2 linked regions of the Homo sapiens genome follow. The protein of the gene in region 1 purifies or fractionates together with the protein of each later gene. This does not show direct contact. Each region holds a gene or a part of one and is shown in the gene's direction. Other genes may lie near its edges.

Region 1 (3,747 bases):
TTCAAAATGTAGCTTCCAGAGTCATAAAAAATGCAGATGCTCACTGTGTGGTGGACGGAGGCAGATAGGCTCTAGGCCGGGCACCCCTGCTAAACCCCAAACTGTAACTGGGTAGAATTCATTCCTAAAAGTCTTGCGTATGCTATACTTGGTGCTCTTTGTTATTCATATTGGCCTCTGCCCTTTAGCAGGTATATTCCTTCAGATACACATTTTGTTTCTCTGAAAACTGGATCCTCTTAGCTTTTTTTTTTTCTTTTAATTTTGGTTAGTTCAATGAGGTTCAGGTAATATTCTCAGGTTGGAAGCAGTGTGGCAGAACAGCCCACTTCCAGTGTTCGTTCTTACCGGTCAATGTCTCTGCATTCAGTAATTCAACTATCAATTGCGGCTATTTAAATACATTGCTTTTTAATGTATTTAAATAGCCGCAATTGATAGTTGAATTACTGAATGCAGAGACAGATTTAATGGGTGCAGCACACCAACATGGCACATGTATACATAGGTAACAAACCTGACCTGGACGTTGTGCACATGTACCCTAAAACTTACAGTATAATAAAAAATAAATAAATAAATACATTGCAATTTACAGGTGAAAATACTTAAGGGTGAGCGGTTAAACAACTTGCTTACCACCACCTAGTGGATAACAATGATTGACAGCTCTTAATGTCAGTTCCGTCAGACAACAAAGCCCACATTTTTAAAATGCTATGCTATGCTCTCTGAATGTTCAAACCAGGGAAGGCCCACGCCCAGTAATTTTCAAAATGTGGTCTCCAGAGTCATAAAAAATGCAAGAGCTTATTGTGTGGTGAACTCAAGCAGATAGGCGCTGGGCCACCCACCCCTGCTAAACACCAAACTGTAAATATATAGTTCACAAGACTACTTCCTATGTGCAAGGGGCTGGTTTAAGCATTTTAACTACACTAACTCATTTCAATCTAACAAGTCTGTTACATAGTTACTATTATTATTGGCTATCAATATTACGCCTATTAAGCTGATGCTTAAAGGTTAGGTAATCCAGCCAAGATCTCGTAAGTGGTGTTGTCAGATTTGAATCCAAGGAGTCCCTTGCTTGTAATGACTATCCTACCAAAAGTTCCTTGCCTAATAAAATGTTTGAATATTACTGATCCAGCCCAAGTTTGAAGGACAGGGCCCAAAGATGCGAAAGTATTTTCCTAATATAACACACTCAGCTAAATAATAGAACAGGCTCTTGCAACTCTCTGTGGTCCCAGGACACTGAGGAGGGGCTCCTTCTCATGGCTTCATTTCAGCTCCACTGTGCGTTTCCCTTCTCTGCCTGGAGTCTCCAGAGGAGCCTGGGATTTGGCAAGAAGGCGGGAGGGAGGAAAGCCTCACTGGACCAGGAACGAAGAGGGTGTCTGGCAACAATAGGACGGAATTTGAAAACCTCTAACCTTGAGTTTAGAGCGATGCTAGCTAGTGCCAGGGCTAGTGAGGTGCCCATTCCGCCAAGGCGCGGGACAGCGAGGACAACCACGCCTTGCCAACCAAAGGCGACCTGACAGCGTTTCCTCGGGGTCGTCGCGGTGGTGAGGGTCACAGAATTCTCCGAAGCCAGTAGCTCCGTTTCCAGCCACGCCCCCTTTCCCAGGGCCCTAAAAGCTTCGGGAGTTCTCCTATTCCATTAATGCTGGTGCGTCCTCGCCTTATCCCCCGAGCGCCCGCAGCTCCCGCCCGCGCAGGAATGCCAGCGGCCAAAGGTCGGGAGGCGCGGGATACTTCTGGCCAATCAGGAGTCACGTTTTCCCGCGCTCTCTCTTCCCGCCCCGCCCCTCCCGTATCCATGGAAACACTGCGAGTGTCTACTCCAAGACCTGGGACTTCCGTTTCGGTCCAGCCGGGCTGCGGCCATTGTTTGTGTGGACTGAGTGTTTTGGCCATCCCGGTCCACTCTCACAGGCTCCGTTAAGTGACATGAACTCTCAGGAGGACTGAGCCAGAAGCGGACAGGGCAAGACGAGCTGTGCTTGAAGGAAGAGGGGCAGAAAATCGAGGGTCAGGGACTGAGAAGCTACTCCGGTTTAGAAACCCCAGAGACACCCGTGTAGATGGGTACATCACGGCTTCTCTCCCACGTTAAGACTTAATAAAGGCAAGTAGAGGAGGGCAGAAGCAGCTTGGGCCCCGGGGTATGGGTGCCCGGTGTTCGGTGCCGGGGCAGAGTTCTGGCCGGGGATCTGGATAAGCAACGGAGGCCGCGCGCGTCTTCAGTGCAGGAGCAGGGGACCCCCGGGTCTGTGGCGGAGACCGGGAGATCCCGCTCCTAGAGAACCGTTCGTGTGTCTGGTTCTCTGGTGCTTACACTTGGGCAGCCCGTGACGCGTTGGGGGAGCCCAAACCTGTCCTGCTCTTGGGGCACGCATGAAACGTTTTTTCCCTAGAGAAAGAGGGTTAACTAATTGCTTATTACTTTGCCCAGGAACCTACCTTTGATCAGCAAGGAAGGACTGGGGTGGCAAAGGCTCATGCCCCCATTTTACAGGTAAGGAAACTGAGATCTTGGAGATCTATAAGTTTGGTCCTCTTTAAAGTTCTACAAGTGCTTGATGGCACAGTTGAGACTTTGATCAGGACCTGGGAGCTCCAGTTCTGGGATACTTCTCTAAGACTCCAGGTACTTTTCTGATAGTAAATCCAGTATTCCTGTTTAGCAAGTAGGGGAGGACAATGGAATGATTTTCTACTTAAACTGAACAAAATAAGAAAAATACCTTGAGAATAGATACTATTTAAGTGTGCTGGTGCTTTCCTATTATTGTTAGTAGTAATAATAATCTCAATAAATAAGTGAGTTGTATCTTTTGAAGTTTCTAGAGGGTTGGAAATAAATTTCAAGGTGCCAGTGTTCATAGCTCTCCTTTCTGGTCGTTGAAAGGAAACAAGAGCATTCATAGGCTTCTTTTGGACCTCTTGCTAGGAGATGTGTGCGTCATACCCAGTTAGTATATGGGAAATTTAATGAATTTGGGAATTTAAAGCCATACCCAGGTTTTCAGTCTGCCTTCCTCCTCAGCTCAGCCGTCTCAGCACTCTACCCTTCCCCAGAAGAGGAACACAAAGGAGGAAGGAATGTACACTGTTTCCCTCATAGTCTGATCCCAAGTGAGGATGATTGTCTTTTCTCATTTACAAAATGTCCCTGCATTCTCCATGGGTGGTGGAGGTGGCAATGAGGATGGATGGATGACTGGACAGAAAACGTTCCTCGCTTGCCTGTGAAATTTTCGAGCGTGCAGACTTGACCCTGCCCCAACCCAGTGTCTTTTCCCAACATTTACTCATTCATTCATTCAGTCACTCAAGTCTAGTGTATAATTCATGCTGTTCTTGGTGTTCTGAGATAAAGAATTATAAGAATGTCATCGCCAGGCGCGGTGGCTCACGCCTGTAATCCCAGCACTTTGAGAGGCCAAGGTGGGCGGATCACTTGAGGTCAGGAGTTTGAGACCAGCCTGGCCCACATGGTGAAACCTCGTCTTTACTATAAATACAAAAATTAGCCAGGCATTGTGGCAGGCACCTGTAATCCCAGCTACTCAGGAGGCTGAAGCAGGAGAATTGCTTGAACCCGGGAGGCTGAAGTTGCAGTGAGCCAGGATGGCACCACTGCACTCCAACCTGGGCAACAGAGGAAGACTCCCTCTCAAAAAAAAAAAAAAAAAAAAAAAAGTCTTAACATTGGGGGTAATAAACTATATGAGA
Region 2 (3,747 bases), on another chromosome or scaffold:
AAGAAAGAAAAGAAATGTGCCCACCCTGTCTGCTTCTGCACTTGCCTTTGTCATGCAACCTCACAGATGGTCTTCACCCGTTTATTTATATCTGTGTATACACACTGGAGGTTCATGCGTTAGCATTTTTAACAACCGCGATGTTGCAAATGTTGTACCAGATTACTATTACAACAGTACAATCATCTGCTCATCAACATCTGGGTGGTTTTCTGGTTTTTTCCTTTGTTCTTTTTTTTTCTTGAGACGGAGTCTCGCTCTGTTGCCCAGGCTGGAGTGCAGTGGCATGATCTGGGCTCACTGCAAACTCCGCCTCCCGGGTTCATGCCATTCTCCTGCCTCAGCCTCCCGAGTAGCTGGGACTACAGGCGCCCGCCACCACGCCCGGCTAATTTTTTGTATTTTTAGTAGAGACGGGGTTTCACTGTGTTAGCCAGCATGGTCTCGATCTCCTGACCTCGCGATCTGCCCGCCTCGACCTCCCAAAGTGCTGGGATTACAGGCATGAGCCACCGTGCCCGGCTCCTTTGTTCTTTTAGTTATGACTACTAACAGACCTGCTATGTCCTTGTTCATGTCTCATGCCCACGGGCAGATGACACCCCAGTCCGGTGGCCCACCTGTACCACTGGGCATCAGAATCCCCTGAGAGCTCTTCATGGACCACAGGGCCCTGGGACCTCACTCCCAGTCACTGGTGCGGCCACTCTGGGGCAGAGCCCAGGAAGGCACATTGCTAACAACCCCTAGTGATACTGAGGCTGCTTGCCCGGGTCCCACTTGGAGAACCCTGTCGAGGGTGGCACTGCTGGTCACAGGGCACTTCTTTTAACTAACATTGTTTTCCAAAGAGGCTGTGACCAACAGAGTTTACTGTTCATGAAACTCAGATCGCAGACAGGCACGTGTCTGTCACAGCCGGTGCCGGCCGCTCCTTTCCATGGACAGTAACGTCCATGCAGGCTTATGTTCATCAGCTGAGAAAAGGGCACTTGCTGGGTGGGACCTTGTCTTATCGACACATAGAGTCTGCAGAAGGTGCCAACTGGTGTCGCAGGGCTGCTCCTGACACGACCCAAAATCACCAGGGTTGAATTCACATTCCTCTTACGTAACCATAACAAGTTGCTGGGACTACAGGCACGCACCACGGTGCCCTGTTAATTTTTTTGTAGAGACAGGGGTCTTGCTTTGTTGCCCAGGCTGGTCTCAAACTCCTGGAGGAGGTGGTCCTCCCACCTTGGACTCCCAAAGTGCTAGGATTACAGGTGTGAGCCACAGTGCCAGGCCTGTGGTACCTCTTCCAAGGACACTAATCCTATCAGATCAGGACCCCACCCTTATAATCTCATTTAACCTTAATTACTTCTCTAAAGGCCCTTTCTGCAAACACAGTCACATTGGGGATTAAGGCTTCACATACAAATGTTAGGGGGACAGAACTCGGTCCATAGCATGGAGTCGCACAGGTTTTGTCCTTTTGCGATTGGCTTGCTTTACTTAGTATGTTTCCAAGGTTCACCCATGTTGTGGCATGGGTCTGAACTTCACTCTTCTTGATGACTGACTCACACTCCACTGCATGGACAGCCAGCATTTTGTCTGTTCCTCAGTTTGTGGACATCTCGCCCCCTTGTTTCCACCTTGGGGATATGGAGGAAGATGGGATGAGCGAAGCCCTGTGATCCCCAGGACCAGCCACGTCGTTGGCAAGGGTCAGCGCAGGATGAAACCGCCGGCCCCTGGTCTCCGGCCGGGCCCTCCGTCTCTAGAGCAGCTCGCACCGCTGCAGCCCCTGGACGCCCCGGGCTGTGGACGCGCCCGTGGGACACCGCGCTGAGCAGGACACGCGACAGGTCCCCTCACTGGCGCTGCTCGCGTTGAACCGCGCGGGGAGCCAGGCAGCCCACGGGAAAGGTAAGAATTGTTAGGCTTTTAATCTAAAGTCGATACCTCAAAAAATAATTCCGGAGGTAAGCATTTAATATCAACATTCAATAAAGCAGGAAGTATCAGCCCGACGAAGACCGCCTTAAGTTTTCCACTTTGATGAACTCGATCATCCCCGGGGATGAAGAACCCGCCGGCCCAGCCGGAGCCCCGTCACGTGACCCGGCGGCCGCGGGGAGCTCTGTGCGCAGGCGCGGATCCGCACGCCCGCCGCCTGAGAAGCGAACTCCCCGTGGCGCCTGCGCTGTAGCGGGGGTTCGGCTGGCTCGCGCGGGTCCGGGCGCGCGCTGCGGGGGCGGAACCGCGCGGAGGCCGGAAGGAAGCTGGAGGGGGCGGGGCGAGGGAGGGAAGCCCGCCGGCCGTAGGACTACCGTCGCGGCCTGATGACGTCGCACAATGGCCGGCCCCCGCGGGTAGTGGAGCCCGTTTGTTCCGCCCGTGTCGAGCCTGGAGCCAGAACCTGTGAAGAGCGGAAGGGCCAAGGGACGTCTTCTCCACGCCGCTCCGACTCCAGGGGAGCCGTGGCCTCCTCTCCGCCCTAGCGCTGAGGTTAGCTGGGGCCGGGAGGGCGGCGGGAGGCCGGGCCGGCGGCGGCGGGAGGAGGAGGCCGCCGAGGCGGCGGCGGCGGCCGCGGGAGGGAGGCCCGGGAGCCCGGCGCGCCTCCGGCCGTGCGGACCCACCGGCCGAAGCGTGGCCCTCGGGCCCAGGGAAGGGGACCTTGAGACAGGCACCACCCCGAGTTCCGTCCGTAAGCCGGCCCCGCGGTCCTGGGGCGCCCTGGGCGCCCGAGCTCCTCGCGCGCTGCCTCCGCGCCCCGCGGCAGAGTTTATTTTCCTGAAGCTGTCATTTCTCTTCCGGGCCACTCGCGTGGCACATGTGTGCCGCCGGCTAAGGGGCGGTGAGAGGCGCCCAGATTCACCTCCAGAGTAGGTCATCCCGGGCTGCTGCTGGGCTCTTCGGAGAACTTTGAGCTCTTTATGAACCTCCTGGAACTTGCTCCGCAGCTTCAAAGTGTGCACAGGTTGGGCGCAGTGATTGCCCCAAGACGCGCGCCGGTCTCTTAGGAGTATGTAACTTCCTTGCCCCTTGGATTAGGAGATCAGAGGTGCTGGGTCCTTTATATAGACCAACTGCAGCTATAATGCTGGAAGAACTGAAACTTAACAGCCTTACTCCTGCCAAACATTTTTCCTGAATACTTTATGACAACTGAGTTTGCCGGGTAGAGTGGCCGTTTTAAATGAGCTTTGTTCGAACAACGCTAACTCATTTGCAAGAGTAGGTCATTCTTCAGACCCATTTGGGAAAATGGAAGAAGAGAGTGTTTGGCATCTGAAGTACCGTTTGGGGTGTAGCAAGGTGCTCATCATGTCTCCTGTTAGACTCACCTCCAGCCTGTTGTCTGTAGAGTAGTCCTTTCCCGTTCAGTAGTTGGGATTATCCGGGTGAGGTTTGACCTCGGCTGAATCCCGCTTCCCAGCTTTGGGAGGAGAGTCTTTTCCTGATAATTTTACTATCTAAGGGCAGTATGGAGCCCAGCCAGCCCTGGAACCAGTCAAATGTGTCCCAAAGCCGGAAACTCCTCTCCCGTTGTAGGTGGGACATGCTGAAATATTGTAAGAAAGCTTTGTGGAGTCACTCCAGAAAGCAAACAGGTAAGTTAACCTATGGCCTACATCGTGTTTACAGAGATTTGTATTTTGTCACAGCTACAGAGCATCTCAAGGTGAGTACCTCTTTATCAAGGAGTTTAGTGGTCACGCTTGGTCACTTTGCACGTGGGGTCTGTCACCAACC

Evidence for each region.
Region 2: the proteins of ZNF214 (region 1) and ZC3H18 purify together in Homo sapiens (affinity purification with mass spectrometry; 2 studies listed by BioGRID and IntAct, with this or other methods). This does not show direct contact.

What each region holds. Positions count from the first base shown.
Region 1 is NC_000011.10:7,018,463-7,022,209, reverse strand, and holds the start of ZNF214 (zinc finger protein 214), read left to right. Parts: upstream 1-1,863; 5' UTR 1,864-2,137; intron 2,138-2,459; exon of another isoform or gene 2,460-2,510; coding exon of another isoform or gene 2,511-2,527; intron 2,528-3,747. UniProt on the Homo sapiens protein: May be involved in transcriptional regulation.
Region 2 is NC_000016.10:88,568,068-88,571,814, forward strand, and holds the start of ZC3H18 (zinc finger CCCH domain-containing protein 18), read left to right. Parts: upstream 1-2,335; 5' UTR 2,336-2,499; intron 2,500-3,747.